2 separate regions of the Homo sapiens genome follow, and region 2 is linked to region 1. The links come from fine-mapping of genetic effects on gene expression. A gene starts in region 1. The other region holds a variant in brackets. All regions are shown on one strand. Distances are from middle to middle. Region 1 holds the start of DCAKD (dephospho-CoA kinase domain containing). Region 2 holds the start of LOC105371796 (a long non-coding RNA gene).

What was found. PIP is the estimated chance that this variant, and not a neighbour inherited with it, causes the effect.
Region 2: its variant is fine-mapped to the expression of DCAKD in adrenal gland (GTEx, PIP 0.98).

What each region holds. Positions count from the first base shown.
Region 1 is chr17:45,047,468-45,055,797 of GRCh38, reverse strand. It overlaps DCAKD (dephospho-CoA kinase domain containing), which reads left to right and starts at 4,166. Exons shown (of 5, transcript NM_001288655.2): 1 at 4,166-4,437. RefSeq lists a silencer at 4,026-4,525 and enhancers at 7,611-8,141, 8,142-8,330.
Region 2 is chr17:45,361,127-45,369,456 of GRCh38, reverse strand. LOC105371796 (a long non-coding RNA gene) reads left to right here and starts at 2,935. Exons shown (of 3, transcript XR_934786.3): 1 at 2,935-3,598; 2 at 4,677-4,773; 3 at 5,774-6,208. The variant C/T (reference allele first, on the strand shown) is at 4,423.

The DNA of each region.
Region 1 (8,330 bases):
ACTGATGACTTGTCAGCCTCTATGGCAGGAACTGGAGAGTCAGGGGTAGAACAGTTCTAGCACAGTGCCTAAGAAAGTGGGGAGCACAGGCTGTCCAGAGGCAGGAGATCCTGGGGGGACATGGTGGCTTAGCTGAATGTTCATCAGGACAGTAAACAAACTGGGGTGGACCTTCTAGGTAGAAAGTCCAGGTGCCTGAGACTTGGGTGCTTTTGAGGTATGGCAATGAGAATGATATGACTTAGGACTGGAGCTTAGAAAGTGAGGAGTGTGTGCCTGTGGTTCCAGCTATTCAGTGGGAGGCTGAGATGGGAGGATCACTTGAGCCTGGGAGGCAGAGGTCACAGTGAGCCAAGATCGTGCCACTGCACTAACCTGGGTAACAGAGTGAGACCCTGTCTCAAAAATAAATAAATAAATAAATAAATAAATAAACGTACAGAAAATAAATTTAAAACCAGGAGCCAAAGGAGTCATCTCTAATGGACTCAGGGTTGTTCATCAAACAAAATGAGAAGCAGAACTGTATTCCAGGCATCATGCTAAATGCTAAGGACACAGAGGTGACTGAGATGCAGGCCACTCTCAGGATAAAATGAGATTGTGTAAGTAGCTACAGCCAGCTCAAAGTTTCTTATTGCCATCCTGAATCATGAAAGACATATATTTGAGCTGAAAAAGCCCTTGATGGCATCACATGGAAACTCCAAAGCCCAAGTTTCATTATGGAGGAGGTGCCTGGGTTGAAGGCCCTGTAGCAGCCCTTCACCCTTTCCTATGGGATCTTCCTGGGGCAGAGGTGCAGCTGCTTTTGGCAAATCGGACCACAAGGATACCTCCTTGGAAGACAAGGCTCTCACTTGTACATGAATAGTTATAATACTGTAAGGCAGTATCTGAGAAAAGTAGGGTCATCTGGACGGTTTCCTAACACTGTGTCCCAGGAAGATCCAGATAATTTGGGGGGACAGGCCAGGCCTGTTCCTATCCCTGTCTTGGCCAGCCATGATTACTGGTGGGAGTCTGGGTATCCCTTGGATGTGTCAGGAGTAGGGAAAAGGGTGAGAACCACAGGATTAGGTTAGCTATACATTGTTTGATCAAGGAAGGGAATTGAGCCATTAAATCTGGCTCTATAAAATAGAATTAGATTTGTTCTGTATGGCCCCACGGTTTAAAACTAGGAGAGATACTGCCTAAGAAAGAACTTTCTAACTGCCAAGACTGGACTTGAAAAAATAACAACTGTCAGCCAGGTGTGGTGGCTCACACCTGTAATCCCAGCACTTTGGGAGGCTGAGGCAGGCAGATCGCCTGAGGTTGGGAGTTCGAGACCAGCATGGCCAGCATGGTGAAACCCCATCTCTACTAAAAATGTAAAAATTAGCCTGGCATGGTGGCAGGCACCTGTAATCCCAGCTACTAGGGAAGCTGAGGCAGGAGAATCACTTGAACCCGGGAGGCGGAGGTTGCAGTGAGCTGAGATCACGCCATTGTACTCCAGCCTAGGCAACAGAGCCAGACTCTGTCTCAAAAAAAAAAATAAATAAAACTGTCTTGAGTGGCAGTGAGTTCCCCAACATGGGACATGTACATGTATACATGGCAGAGATAATGTGGAAGAGATTCAAATACTGGCAGGGTGTTTGTACCAAATGGCCCTTTTGGACACAAGATGGAATCCTTTTTATTGGGTGATGGCAGTAGGTCTCCTTGACTGTTGAAGTCAGGAAGAAAGCTTTCAGGGACTCAGGTGATCTGAGAAAGATGTTAAATTACTTAATTCCTCAATATACTGAATCCCTACTGTGCAGGGCACTGGGTATTGTAGTAGTAGATAGGCAAGATTCCTACCTTAAAGGAAGTAGAGAATAGAGATACAGTTTAAGGAAAGGGAAGGGAGACAGGGTAGGTGTTAATTAAAAACTTCCTGCTGGTGAGGCACCGTGGCTCATGCCTATAATCCCAGCACTTTGGGAGGCCGAGGTGGGTGGATCACCTGAGGTCAGGAGTTTGAGACCAGCCTGGCTAACATGCCAAACCCCATCTCTACTAGAAATACAAAAATTAGCCAGATGTGCTGGGCATGGTGGCTGACGCCTGTAATCCTAGCACTTTGGGAGGCCGAGGTGGGTGGATCACCTAGGTCAGGATTTCCAGACCAGCCCGGCCAACGTGGTGAAACCCCATCTCTACTAAAAATACAAAATTAGCCGAGTGTGGTGGTACATGCCTGTAATCCTAGCTACTTGGGAGGCTGAGGCAGGAGAATCGCTTGAACCCGGGAGGTAGAGGTTGCAGTGAGCCGAGATCATGCCACTGCACTCCAGCCTGGGCAACAAGAGCAAAACTCCATCTCAAAAGCAAAACAAATTAGCTGGATGTGGTGGCGCACACCTCTAGTCCCAGCTACTCGGGAAGCTGTGGCAGGAGAATCGCTTGAACCTGGGAGGCAGAGGCTGCAGTGAGCCAAGATCCTGCCACTGCACCCCAGCCTGGGCAATAGAGCGAAACTCTGTCTCAACAAACAAACAAACAAACCAAACAAAAAAAAAACAAAAACAACTTCCTGCTATATGTGAGGCATAACTAGATAACTAGTTTTTTTTTTTTTTTTTTTTTTTTTTTAACTGGAGACAGAGTCTTGCTGTAGTCTCCCAGGCTGGAGTGCAGTGACCGGATCTTGGGCTCACTGCAACCTCCACCTCCCGGGTTCAAGCAATCCTCCTGCCTCAGCCTCCCGTGTAGCTGGGATTACAGGCATTCACCACCACGCCCGGCTAATTTTGTATTTTTAGTAGAGACGGGATTTTGCCATGTTGGCCAGGCTGGTCTCAAACTCCTGACCTCAGGTGATCCACCCGCCTTGGCCTCCCAAAGTGCTGGGATTACAGGCGTGAGCCACAGCGCCCGGCCTAGATGCTTTATTTTTTTTGAGGCAAGGTCTCGTTTTGTTGCCCAGGCTGGAGTGCAGTGGTACCATCATGGCTCTCTGCAGCCTTGACCTCCTGGGCTCAAGCCATCCTCCTGCCTCAGCCTCCCGAGTAAATGAGACCACACTGTCACCATGCCTGGCTAGTTTGTTTTTTGTTTTTTTTTTTTGTAGAGATCGGGGGTTAGTCTCACTCTTGTTTAGGCTGGTCTCGAACTCCTGGGCTCAAGTGATCCTCCCAAAGTGCTGAGATTACAGGTGTGAGCCACCGTGCCCGGCTTTTATGTATTCTTTCAACAACGCTGCACGGCTGCGATTATCCCCACTTTGAGAGGAGACAGGATGAGAGGCTGAGTGGCTTGCTAGGCTTGTATGGACAGGATGCGGGCTCTGCAATCACATGACTTTGTATGAGAGGGCAAATGGATTAACCGCTAAACATAGTTTCCTGTTGTGTAAAATGGGGATGATGATAGTATCCACCCTGCGGACTGTGCGGGCTGAGATAATCCCACAAAGTGCTCTTAGGACCTGGCAGGTGGAAAGTGCTCATGATCACCTCTGCCAAGGCTGCACAAGTAGCGAGTGGCCGAGCTTTATATCCGAAGTTAGGACCCTGCAGTTTTGCCCCTCTCCTCTCTCTCCCTCTCCTTCCCGGCTCCGGGGAAAGGAAAATTTATGGCTCCGGGTCGGGGGTTGCGGGGGACCTCTGTGCCGTGCTCCGGGGCCGAGCTCTCCCCGCCGGCCTCTCCCGCGTCCGTCCGGCCGCCCTCCCGCCCAACCTCTCCCGCCCAACCTCTCCCGCGTCCGCCCGCCCGCCCAACCTCTCCCGCGTCCGCCCGCCCGCCCAACCTCTCCCGCGTCCGCCCGCCCGCCCAACCTCTCCCGCGTCCGCCCGCCCGCCCAACCTCTCCCGCGTCCGCCCGCCCGCCCAACCTCTCCCGCGTCCGCCCGCCCGCCCAACCTCTCCCGCGTCCGCCCGCCCGCCCAACCTCTCCCGGCCCCGCCCGCCCGCCCGCCCAACCTCTCCCGGCCCCGCCCGCCCGCCCGCCCAACCTCTCCCGGCCCCGCCCGCCCGCCCGCCCAACCTCTCCCGGCCCCGCCCGCCCGCCCGCCCAACCTCTCCCGGCCCCGCCCGCCCACCCAACCTCTCCCGGCCCCGCCCGTCCAACCTCTCCCGGCCCCGCCTGCTGGCCGGACGTCCGGTCTGCAGGCGCGCGCTCCCGAGGTCCCGCCTCGCCCGCTGAGCCGGCCTGTAAGCGCTGCGGAGATTGGGCTAGAGGCGGAGGCCTGGGCCACGGCGGAGGCGCTGGGTACGTAGCGCGCCACGCGGGCCGGTGAGAGCCAGCCGGGCGCCGGGGAGGGGGCGGGCCCTGGCCGCGGCTGCTACGCGGGGCTGCCACCGCCCCGGGCGACCCAATTTCGCGGCCTAGTGGGGCGTACGGGCCTCTTTTGAAAGCCTGAGTTACGATGTATTGAGCGCGTCGTATGCGGCCAGCACTAAGGCAAGTGCTTTTATATCCACGGCCCATTGTCTTGACAGCAACCCTACCAAGCAACGTGTTATTTCCTCTGTTTTACGGCTGAGGACGCGCAGGAAGGTTTACAGCTAGAAAGGGCTGGAGATTGTGGATTCAAACTCAGGATCAGACCAAAGCCACTGCCCTTTAGAACTTTGCGGGCCGATTGATTCTTGAATCTAGCTTCTGCCACTTCAGTTGTGTGACCTTGGGGTATCTTTCCGATCCCAAGTTTGCTCATCTGAAAAATGGGAATAAAGCTACAGTATCTGTCCCATAGGGTGGGTATAAAGTGCTTTACTGTTGAGCTGAGTGATCATCTCCGATTTTCAGACCCCTCTCCTCCGCTTCCCTCTCCCCTGGGAGGCCAGTTAAGGTTTTAGTGAAGGCCCCCGGGACTGGGGCGGCGTGGATCTCACGCCCACCAACTAGTGAGGGAGGCCATCCGGCCACCCGTCTCTTCCTTCCCCAGCTCCGCAAAGGAGGCGTTGGCATTTCAGGTGTTTGCTTACAGAGTTTTCAAAGATTTTTCACTCTCCCTTAGTTGTGGGAAAATGATTCAACCTACCCAAGTGAACTTTGACATTAAGTCTCAATTCTAACGGTGAGGAAATGGAAGCCTTTGAATATGTTTTATGTCTTAAACGTGTTTGTTTTTGCAGGAGGGAGAGTGCTCATTTTACCTGAATAAATCAAGATTGAGTTGGTGTGGCACAGTGCTGGCATAGGCCTGGGGAAAGGGGTGAAATGCTAGAGATCTGGTAGATGGATAGAAAGTGGACAGACGGGTTCGGGTGGTTTTTGTCTCAGCAGGGCCCTAAATTCCCACCAAATCCTCCTCTGTCTGTCTTCACCAAGGTCTGAATCTGTCCCCTTGGTAAATAACGTTTAAATGGTCTCCGAGCCCCTCTTGGTGCCTGTACCTTAAGGAGAGAAGAAGAGGGCTGATAGCTGAAGGCAGGCAAGCCACGAACTTAGCTTTGTTTTGAAAATTACCCTCTGGGCCGGGCACGGTGGCTCACGCCTGTAATCCCAGCGCTTTGGTAGGTTGAGGAGGGTGGATCACCCGAGGTTAGGAGTTCGAGACCAGCCTGGTCAACATGGTGAAACCCCCGTGTCAACTAAAAATGCAAAAAAATTAGCCGGACATGGTGGTGCATGCCTGTAGTCCCAGCTACTCGGGAGGCTGAGGCAGAAAAATCGCTTGAACCCGGGAGGCTGAGGTTGCAGTGAGCCGAGATCGTGCCACTGCACTCCAGCCTGGGCAAGAGAGTGAGACTCCTTCTCAAAAGAAAGAAAGAAAGAAAAAATTACCTGCTGGGAGGCCGAGCGCGGTGGCTCACGCCTGGTAATCCCAGTATTTTGGGAGGCTGAGGCAGGCAGATCACCTGAGGTCAGGAGTTTGAGACCAGCCTGGCCAACATGGTGAAACTCCATCTCTACTAAAAATACAAAAAAATTAGCTGGGTGTGGTGGCGGGTGCCTGCAATCCCAGCTACTCAGGAGGTCGAGGTAGGAGAATCACTTGAACTCAGGAAGCAGAGGTTGCAGTGAGCTGAGATCGTGCCACTGCACTCCAGCCTGGGTGACAAGAGCAAGACTCTGTTTCAAAAAAAAAAAAAAAAAAAAAAAGGAAAAGAAAAAGAAAATTACCTGCTGGCACAGTTTTAGATTGATAGCTTTAGATTGAAACTTTCACATTTTTATTTTGAAGATTACAGAGGATAAAAGTTCTGGTTAATTGTGAATGTTGATATTTTAAAATAAAGCTGTTAAAATCCTCATTTAAACCTGCAGTGAAGTCTAAATATACACCATTTGATTTGATTTCCCTCATCTTTTGAAAAAAAAAAAAAGAACCACTTTTTATTTAACCATCGAAATTTCAAATCGTTCTTTTTTTCCTTTATTTTTTCCGAGATGGGATCTTGCTCTGTTGCTCAAGCTGGAGTGCAGTGGCAGTCACTGGTTACTGCACCCTTGACCTGCTGAGCTCAATCCTCCCACCTTAGCCACCAAAGTAACTAAGAGTACGGGTGTCTGTCACCACATATGGCTGATTTTTCTTTTTATTTTTAGTAGAGACGAGGTCTTGCTATGTTGCCCCGGCTGACTCCTGGTCTCAAGTGATCCTTGCATCTCAGCCTCCAAAAGTGCTGGGATTAGAGGTGTAAGCCACCATGCTTGGCCCTTTTTCCTTCTTGAACTCATATTTCCACTTTGTTTCCTCACAGAAGTTTTTTCTAATGTAATAGTTTTTGTTTTTTTGAGACAGGGTCTCTGTCACCCAGGCTGTAGTGCAGTGGCGGGATCACAGCTCACTGCAGCCTTGACCTCTTGGGCTCAAGCAATACTCCCACCTTAGCTTCCCCAGTAGCTGGGACTGCAGGCTTTCGCCACCATGCTCAGCCAATTTTTTTTTTCCAAATGAAAGCAAGATTATTAGGAAAATAATGGAATAAAGAATGGCTACACCATAGGCAGAACAGCCCTTGTGCTGCTGGTTGGCTATTTTTATGGTTCTTTCTTTCTTTTTGAGACAGAGTCTGTCTCACTCTGTCACCCAGGCTGGAGTGCAGTGGCGCAGTCTTGGCTCACTGCAGCCTCTACCTCCTAGGTTCAAATGCTTCTCAAGCCTCAGCCTCCTGAGTAGCTGGGATTACAGGTGCATGCCACCACGCCTGGCTAATTTTTGTTTTGTTTTTCTTTGAGATGGAGTCTCGCTCTGTCACCCAGGCTGGAGTGCAGTGGCACGATCTCGGCTTACTGCAACGTCTGCCTCCCGGTTTCAAGCGATTCTTCTGCCTCAGCCTCCTGAGTAGCTGGGACTATGGGCATGTACCACCATGCCTGGCTATTTTTGTATTTTTAGTAGAGACGGGGTTTCACCATATTGGCCAGGCAGGTCTCAAACTCCTGACCTCGTGATCCGCCCTCGGCCTCCCAAAGTGCTGGGATTACAGGCATGAGCCAACATGCCTGGCCTAATTTTTGTATTATTAGTAGAGATGGGCTTTTGCCATATTGGCCAGGCAGGCTGGTCTCAAACTCCTGGCCTCAAGTGATCTGCCTCCCAGAGTGCTGGGATTCCAGCTAATTTTTTTTTTTTTCCATTTTTTTGTAGAGACAGAGTCTCACTATGTTGCCCAGGCTGGTCTTGAACTCCTGGCCTCAAGTGATCCTCCTGCCTTGACTTCCCAAAGTGCTGGGATTATATGCATGAGATACTGTGCCTGACCATGTAATAATACATTTTATGCCTGAAAGCCTTTGGTTTATCATATTTCTCTGCAACAAAAATACATACAAAATTAAAACTTTTTTAAAATTGTGTTATCATGAGTATTAAATGTTTCTTTTGGATTGAGTTGTCACAATTATAAAATACACAATTGATAAAAACAATGTTAACAAAGTTTTATTTGAGTATTTCTCTTAATAAGCTAAGTGGGCCGGGTGTGGTGGCTTATGCTTGTAGTCTCAACATTTTGGGAGGCCAAAGCAGGCAGATTACTTGAGCTCAGGTGTTTGAGACTAGCCAGGGGCCAGACGCGGTGGCTCACGCCTGTAAACCCAGCACTTTGGGAGGCCAAGGTGGGCGGATCACAAGGTCACAAGTTCAAGACCAGCCTGACCAACATGCCGAAACCCCGTCTGTACTAAAGATACAAAAATTAGCTGGGTGTGGTGGCGTGTGCCTGTAATCCCAGCTACTGGGGAGGCTGAGGCAGGAGAATCATTTGAACCGGGAGCCGGAGGTTGCAGTGAGCCAAGATCGCGCCACTGCATTCCAGCCTGGGCAACAGGGTGAGACTCCATCTCAAAAAAAAAAAAAAAAAAAGAGACTAGCCAGGGCAACCCAGCAAAACCTCATCTCT
Region 2 (8,330 bases), 310 kb before region 1:
TTAAGAAGTTTGTTCCTTTTTTGCTTTTTGTTTTTTGTTTTTTTGATACCGAGTCTCACTCTGTCGCCAAGGCTGGAGTGCAGTGGTGCGATCTCGGCTCACTGTAACCTCCACCTCCCAGGTTCAATCGATTCTTGTGCCTCAGCCTCCTGAGTAGTTGGGACGACAGGCGTGCGCCACCACTCCCGGCTAATTTTTGTATTTTTAGTAGAGATGGTGTTTCACCATGTTGGCCAGGCTAGTCTCAAACTCCTGGCCTCAGGTGATTCACCTGCCTCGACCTCCCGAAGTGCTGAGATTACGAATGTGAGCCACTGCGCTCGGCCAGTTTGTTCCTTTTTATTGCTGAGTAGTATTACACTGAATGGATATTTCACATTTTGTTTATCCAGTTACCAGCTTTTGCATATTTGGATGATTTACAGGGTTTTTAAAATGTACAATGCTGCTATGAGCATTCAGGTCTTTGTGTGGCCACATTTTTACTTCTCTTGGGTAGTTTCTGTTTAACTTTTTAAGCAACTGCCAAGCTGTTTTCCAAAGTGGCTGCATCATGTTACATTCCCAACAGCAATGTATGAGGCTTCCACTTTCTCTACATTCTCCACCACACTTGTTATTATTATCTGTCTTTTTGATTATAGCCATCCTGGTGGGTTTGAAATGGTATCTCATTGTGGTTTTAATTTGCATTTTTCAAATAACAAATTGAAATTGAACATTTTTGTGTGCTTATTAACCATTCTTTTTTATTATTGTTAGGAGAGAGAGGGTTTTCCTCTGTCACCCAGGCTGGAGTGCAGTGGCACAATCATAGCTCACTGCAGCCTTGAGCTTCTGAGCCCAAAAGATCCTCCTGCCTCAGCCTCCTGAGTAGCTGGGACTATAGATACACACCACTATATCGGCTAATTTTTTTTTTTTTTTGTAGAGATGGGGTTTTGCTATGTTGACCAGGCTGGTCTCAAACTCCTGGCCTCAAGCAATCCTCCTGCCTCGGCTCCTGAAGTGCTGGGATTACAGGCATGTGTCACAATATCCTGAGCCATGCCAGCCCATATATTTTCTTTGAAAAAAATGTCTATTAGAGTCTTTCATCTTTTTTTTTTTTTTGCAGCGGGAGTTTTGTGGTGGCGGTGGGGGAGTCTTGCTCTGTTGCCCAGGCTGGAGGGTAGTGGCACAACCTTGACTCACCACAACCTCTGCCACCTGGGTTCAAGCGATTCTCCTGCATCAGCCTCCTAAGTAGCTGGGATTACAGGCGCCTGCCAGCACACCTGGCTAGTTTTTGTAATTTTAGTAGAGATGGGGTTTCACCATGTTGCCCAGGCTGGTCTCAAACTCCTAGCCTCAAGCAATCCACTTGTCTCGGCCTCCCAAAGTGCTGGGATTACAGACATGAGCCACCACGCCTGGGTTGTTTTGTCCATCTTTACATTTAGTTGTTTGTCTTCTTATTATCGAGTTATAAGACATCATTTTAAAAAATAGGTCAGTCATAGTTGATTGTATGCATGGGACGTCATTTGTTTAACTTGTTTCCTATTGATATCTCTTAAAATTTTCGTTTTATACGTATTTTTATAATAGGCATAATATATTAATGCAATAGTTTATGTTCCTGACATAAATAAGCAAATACAATTGGAATACATCCTCAAGTTAGTTTGCTGAGAGGGATCATTAAGGCCTGGTGACCCCTGACCTGAGCCTTCCTCCCCCTCCCCCCTCTCCCCGCCTGCCCCACCCCGTCCATCAGGCCCTTTCTAGCAATCTCAAGGTTTGTAGAAACCTTGTTAAAAGCCCTCTTTCCTGGCAGCCTCTGACCTCCAAAAAGTCTGATTGGGATCCCCTAACTGATGAGGGAGGCTGAGGCTGAGGGAGTCCACCCAGGGTAACATCGGCACGGTCTGAATCACAGGGCTTTCTGGAATGACCCAGAGGCCACCCCTTCCTTAATTTGGGAAGCTCCAGGCTAGAGGACATGATGAGTGTTCATGCTGAGGTTCTCCTGAGTCCAGCAGCGTGAGGCGAGCTCAGAGCCCAGGAGTGTGGTTCGGGATGGTGCTGCCCTCAGCCCCCATGCTGCGTCCTGACCCCCCGCCCATCCATCTGCCCAGCCTGTCAATGTGGACTCACACACACCTGGTGTCACCTCAGAGCAATCCAAAGTAAAAGACCCTGCTGGTCCATGTCTCCCCTCCTGGTGGTTCCTTCATCTCCATTATCTTCTTCTTCATCATCCTCATTGTCACCACGTACTGCAGACATGTCCCATGCCTGTAAGTGACTTCTGGGATACTGTTTAATCCTCCAACAAATCCTACGAGCTGGAGCTTATTAGTTCTCTATTGCAGAAGAGAAAACTGAGGCTCCGGGAGGCTATGGGACTTCTCTGTCCCATCTTAGCAACAGAGGTGGAATCCACAGTCCACACCTTTGACTGGGACATGGCCCTACCCACCCTTCAGGGGCTGAGAACTGGCGCAGACTCAGCCTTCAGCTGATTTTCACCTGATTCTTAGCAGACGTCTTGGAAAAACCTCCTGGTGACATAATAAGAGCAGTGTGGCTCCAGGGTCGGGGAGGAATTTAGGGGGTGAGAATTGGGGGTGCCCCCCCTTGCCCTGAGCCAGGGCAGCTGCAGAGAAAGTACTATTCAGGGCAGGGCAGGAATGGACCCTGGAGAGCCTGAGGGTCCCACAGGGAGAGCACGCTGTCTACCCCCAGCACAGCCCCCGCCTCTCCTGGGGCTCAGCAGGCAGAGGGGAGAGGGCAGGTTCAGCCCAGAGAAGAGGGACTGTCACAGGTACCAAGCTTGTCTACTTTGGCAGGAGAAAGCTAAGGTCTGTAATCACACTTTCTGTTTTCACTTTTCTTCCATTTCTGAGTAAGCATTTCTATTGGAAAACTCCAGACTTGTCTGAGCTCAACGAAAGGAAAAGGGATCTGTGGGCACCCAGAGCAGGCCAGGGGTGGGGGTGGGGAGCCGGGCCCCTGAGTGGGTAGTATGCGTTTCCAGGGGCTCAGATCTGATGATCCCATCCTTGGCTCCACAAATTCAATCCATGCCCCTTAGCTTGGCATTCGAGGCCTTTCCTTCATCTGGCTTCAGCCCCTGCTTCTCTCTGGCTTACATCCAGGTTTCTGCTCACATTGTTCCCTATGCCCACAATGCCCTTTCCTCCCATCCTAAGAGATCCAATGCCCAAACTCTGGTCATCCTTCAAGGCCCAGCCCAGATGCCTCCTCCTCCATGAAGCCTTCCTTGACCCCCTCAGCTGGACATGACATCTCCCTCTTCTGAATTCCCACAGCCCTTGGTTCATACTTCTCTGAGGGCGTATTCCATTCTCCCACCAGCAGCAGACCTTGGTTGTGACCCTACCCAGCATCCTTCCTCCTTCTGATCAAAACACTCCAATATTCCATGAGAAATATCTGTCGCCCACCTTCAGACATGTGGTCCAGAAGAAGCTGATTCCACTCCCAGGATCCAGAGAGGCTCATAAGGCCCAGGCCTCGAAGTCGGAGTAGCCCATCTTTTCTCCTACCCCCTCCACTTCTGAACCCTGTGCTTGCTATGGGATCAGTTCAGGTATGGGGCTGTGACTCAGTCACAGCCAGAGCTATATCAGGGCTTTTTTCCTCTTTCTTTCTTTCTTTCTTTCTTTCTTTCTTTCTTTCTTTCTTTCTTTCTTTCTTTCTTCCTTCCTTCCTTCCTTCCTTCCTTTCTTTCTTTCTTTCTTCCTTTCTTTCTTTCTTTCCTTCTTTCTTTCTTCCTTTCTTTCTCTCTCTTTCTTTCTTCTTTCTTTCTTTCTTTTTTTAATTTATTTATTATTATTATACTTTAAGTTTTAGGGTACATGTGCACAATGTGCAGGTTAGTTACATATGTATACATGTGCCATGCTGGTTCATTCTTTCTTTCTTTCTTTCTTTCCCTTTTTTTTTTTTTTTTTGTTTTGTTGTTGTTTTTTGAGACAGAGTCACCCTCTGTCGCCCAGGCTGGAGTACAGTGGTGTGATCTCACTGCAACCTCCGCCTCCCAGGTTCAGGTGATTTTCCTGCCTCAGCGTCCTGGGTAGCTGGGATTACAGGCGCATGCCACCACACCCAGCTAATTTTTGTATTTTTAATAGAGACAGGGTTTCACCATGTTGGCCAGGCTGGTCTCAAACTCCTGACCTCAAGTGATCCGCCCACCTCAGCCTCTCAAAGTGCTGGGATTACAGACGTGAGCCACCGCGCCCAGCCTCTCTATAGATCTTACTCTGGCCCTGGGTTCACGTCACTTGCAAGTGAAAAATCCCTGACTGCTATTTATTCCTTTGCTCTGTTTCTCTGCAGCTAATGTCCTACTTGGACCTGCAGGATGGAGGCTCCTGGAAGTCAGGTGCCATGATCTCTTGCCTTTGTGCT[C/T]CCACAGCACCAAGCACAGGGCCAGCCGCACAGAAAGTTTCCACGAGGGTTTGTAGAACCGTCTGTGGGAGGAGTGAACACGCTGGCTGTCCTGGCCCTCCCCACCCCAACCAGGAGCCCATCTCGGGCCTGGGACTCTCCACCTTCTCCCCAGACCTGACCTGGCAGTGGACAGCCCAGACTGGAGCTTCCTGCCTGCCACACTGGCTCTCCAGTCAGCAGAGGCCAGAAAGTGGTGATTTCCTGTATTGCAGGATCAGATGGCAGAATCGCAAGAGCTCCGCATCCCCAGGGACTCATCTGAAAGACAATGTGAAGCAAAGACAATGTGAGGCGTGGGGAGACTTCCAGGTACTTGGTTGCATCTGGGGAGGGGCCAGTGGTGTCTGAGCTTTAGCTTCTGGAAGCCGGCTGCTGCGGGGTGGAGACAGAGGGGCTGTGCCAGAGAGGGAACAGCTCTAGAAACCAGCAACAGGGAGAAGTTTGATGCAGGGCAGAGGGGAACCTGGGATGGGAGGCTGGGCAAGGGGCTCCTGCTCCCCAGGGGGCTGATGAAGACCCTTGGTGTTCTCCCACCTGCCTCTGGGAGCTTGTGGTGTTTTTGTTGTTGTGTTTTGGTGTTTTGTTTTGTTTTGAGACTGGACTGAGTCTCACTTTGTCGCCCAGGCTGGAATGCAGTGGTGCAATCTTGGCTCACTAAAACCTCCACCTCCCAGGTTCAAGTGATTCTCCTGCCTCAGCCTCCTGAGTAGCTGGGATTATAGCGCCCGCCACCACGCCCAGCTAATTTTTATATTTTTAGTAGAGATGGGGTTTCACCATATTGGCCAGGCTGGTCTCGAACTCCTGACCTCAAGTGATCCGCCCACCTTGGCCTCCCAAAGTGCTGGGATTACAGACGTGAGCCACTGCGCCCAGCTGGGAACTTGTGTTTTAGAAAGTCCTTCAGTTCCATCCTTACTCTGGAGCACTGTAAAGTTTATAAAACAAAATGTCTGAGAGCACCACCTTGTTAGTAACCAACTGAGTGGAACCCTACTCTATCTAGTGTCCTGTTCTGGTGTATTGGTCAGGAGAGGCTATAGTGTGCTGAGGTAAACATTGACCTCCAAATCTTAGCGGCTTCTTGATGCAACAAAGGTGTATTTTTCTCGTTCACACAAAACTGCTGCAGGTTGGGTAACTGTCCAGGTTAGCTGTCCCTTGTACAGGCTACTTCCTTCTAGTGGCTCTACCATTTCAAACCATGGCATCTGTGGTTGCCACTAAAGGCCAAGAGAGAACAGGAGGGTTGGACAGCAGCACTTCAGTGTTTCGGTCCAGAAATGACACCTGTCACTTCCATTCACAGCCTGTTGGTCAGAGTTTGCCTCATGACCCCACCCTGACTGCACGGAAGGCTGGGAAGTGTGGAGGAGGACATGAGTAGTCAATGAGCATTGAGTGCCTCTGCCATGCTGGGTATCCCAGGGGAAGAGGAGACACAGGCACAGAGGACTGGAGGACTTTGAGGCTGGATATCTAGGTTCAAACCCAAGCTCTTCTAGAATGACTAGAAGCTATGTGACCTTGGGAAAATTACTAAATGTCTCTGAGTCTTGCTTTTCTCCTGTGCCAAACGGGGATAAAATAAGAGTTCCTACCTCACGAGGTTGTTGGGAAGATAAATCAGACCATGCTTATAAAAAGAGCTAGTGGTGCCCAGCACAAGGTTGGCATTTGTATTAGTCTGCTTTCACGCTGCTAATAAAGACATATCCAAGACTGGGTAATTTATAAAGAAAAAGAGGTTTAATGGACTCACAATTCTACGTGGCTGGGGAGGCCTCACAATCATGATGGAAGGCAAAAGGCATGTCTTACATGGTGGCAGGCAAAAAGAGAATGAGGGAAGCAAGTGAAAGGGGTTTCCCCTTGTACAACCATCAGCTCTCATGAGACTTATTCACTGTCATTTGAACAGTATGGGAGAAACCGCCCCCGTGATTCAATGATCTCCCACCGGGTCCCTCCCAAAACACGTGGGAATTATGGAAGCTACAAATCAAAATGAGATTTGGTTGGGGACACAGCCAAACCATATCAGCATTTAATAAGTGGACACTATTTGATTAGTCTGTTTAGAAAAAGTTGAAGATGCTCAACATATGACTGAAAAATAGAGCTAATTGAAAAATATAGCCAAAGCCTCCCTTTCAATAGCTGGCTCCCTTGTCTGCCCCTGCCCAGGGTCCCCTTGCTCTCCTTCCCTCCCCTCTGCAAGGACTTATAAGGATCCCCCAGTCAACCACTCCCCTGTGTGCGAGAAGATCTGCCCTCTCCCCCAGGGTGCATGTATCTGAAGTCTTAGTGTTGGGTACACGCATCTGAAGTCTTGGTGTTGATCGTGGGGAGAAAACCTTGGTGCTCTGTTGAAGAATACCAAACATTAGCAAGCAGATGAGAGAGGGGCACATATGTTCTCCAAACAGTGCTCCTACTTGTGTTTATGGCAAACAGGGTGCCCAGAGAATGGAAGATGCTGAGATCCTTGAAAAGTGTCTTGGAGGAGGTCAGGTTTAGGCAAGCGACTAGAAGGAGGGGGACCCCGGGTGGCTGAGGGAGGAGGGAGGGGCTGGAAAAGAGCCTGTAACAACCTCAGCAATGGAGGAGACAGTAAGAAACCATGCTGGTGATGGAGTGGGAGATAACTCTTCACATCCAGAGAGCTCTGCACAGTTTAAAAGTAAGGCCACCTGACTGGTGAAAACTCAACAGAGCTCAGTGGCAGGGAGAGCAACATCTGAACTCTCCTTTCCAGTGTTGCTGTCACTGGGAAGCAGTTGCCGAGCCAGGGACCACATTTCCCAGGCCCCCTTGGCCCCATGCCACGTTCTTGCCAATGGAATGGGAGCAGAAGTAACGTGTGTCACTTCCAGGCCAAGGCTTTTGAGGAGTGGTTATGCCTTTCATGGGGTCTCTTTCCCCTCCTATTAAATGAGTGTAGAAGATGATAGTTAGACCAGGCGGTGGTAGGGCCTCAAAATGGAAAAAGCCTGGTCTCTAAATCACTGCATGGGGGAAGGTCACCTGCAAACCAAGAACATCTGCAATGAACTGGTAAATAAGTGGGAAATAAACAAAATATATTTGGGGGTTTATTTGTTGTAGCAACTAGCATTGTCTTGAAGCATGGTGAGTACATCTTTCTTTGAAGGGGCTTCTGGGGCACTGTGAGGGGTACGGAGGGATGAAAGCCCCCTTTGGCACTGCCACTGCTCCTCCCCCAATGGTCCTCTTGCTTCACAAGGGGGAAGCTCTCTTGCTCTCCTTCCTTCCTTCTCCACCCACATTCTTCCCAACAAGACAGGGACAGGACCCAGCATGGGTGGAGTTTTGGACATCCAGTTTGGACATTCTTATTTCTTAAGAATCCTTCCTCAGAGCATGAGTTGGAAGTTTTGGCACTTTTGAGAGATGTGACCAGCTGACTCTATAACTGGGTGGGGCAACATGGGAAAACGAGATGGAGAGACCACCAAGGGAGGCAGTCAATGGAAGGGAGCGGAAAGGAAAGCCAGGCCAGGAGCTTGGATGTGATTTTTTTTTTTTTTTGAGACGGAGTCTCGCACTGTTGCCCAGGCGGGAATCCAGTGGTACAATCTGCACTCACTGCAATATCCGCCTCCCCAGTTTAAGCGATTCTCCTGCCTCAGCCTCCCAAGTAGCTGGGATTGCAGGCACCTGCCACCACGACCAGCTAATTTTTGTATTTTTAGTAGAGACAGGGTTTCGCCAGGGTTGGCCAGGCTGGTCTCGAACTACCGACCTCAAGTGATCCACCCATCTTGGCCTTCCAAATTGCTGGGATTACAGGTGTGAGCTACTGCATCTGTCCTGGCTATGATATTTTGAGTAAAGGGAAGTCC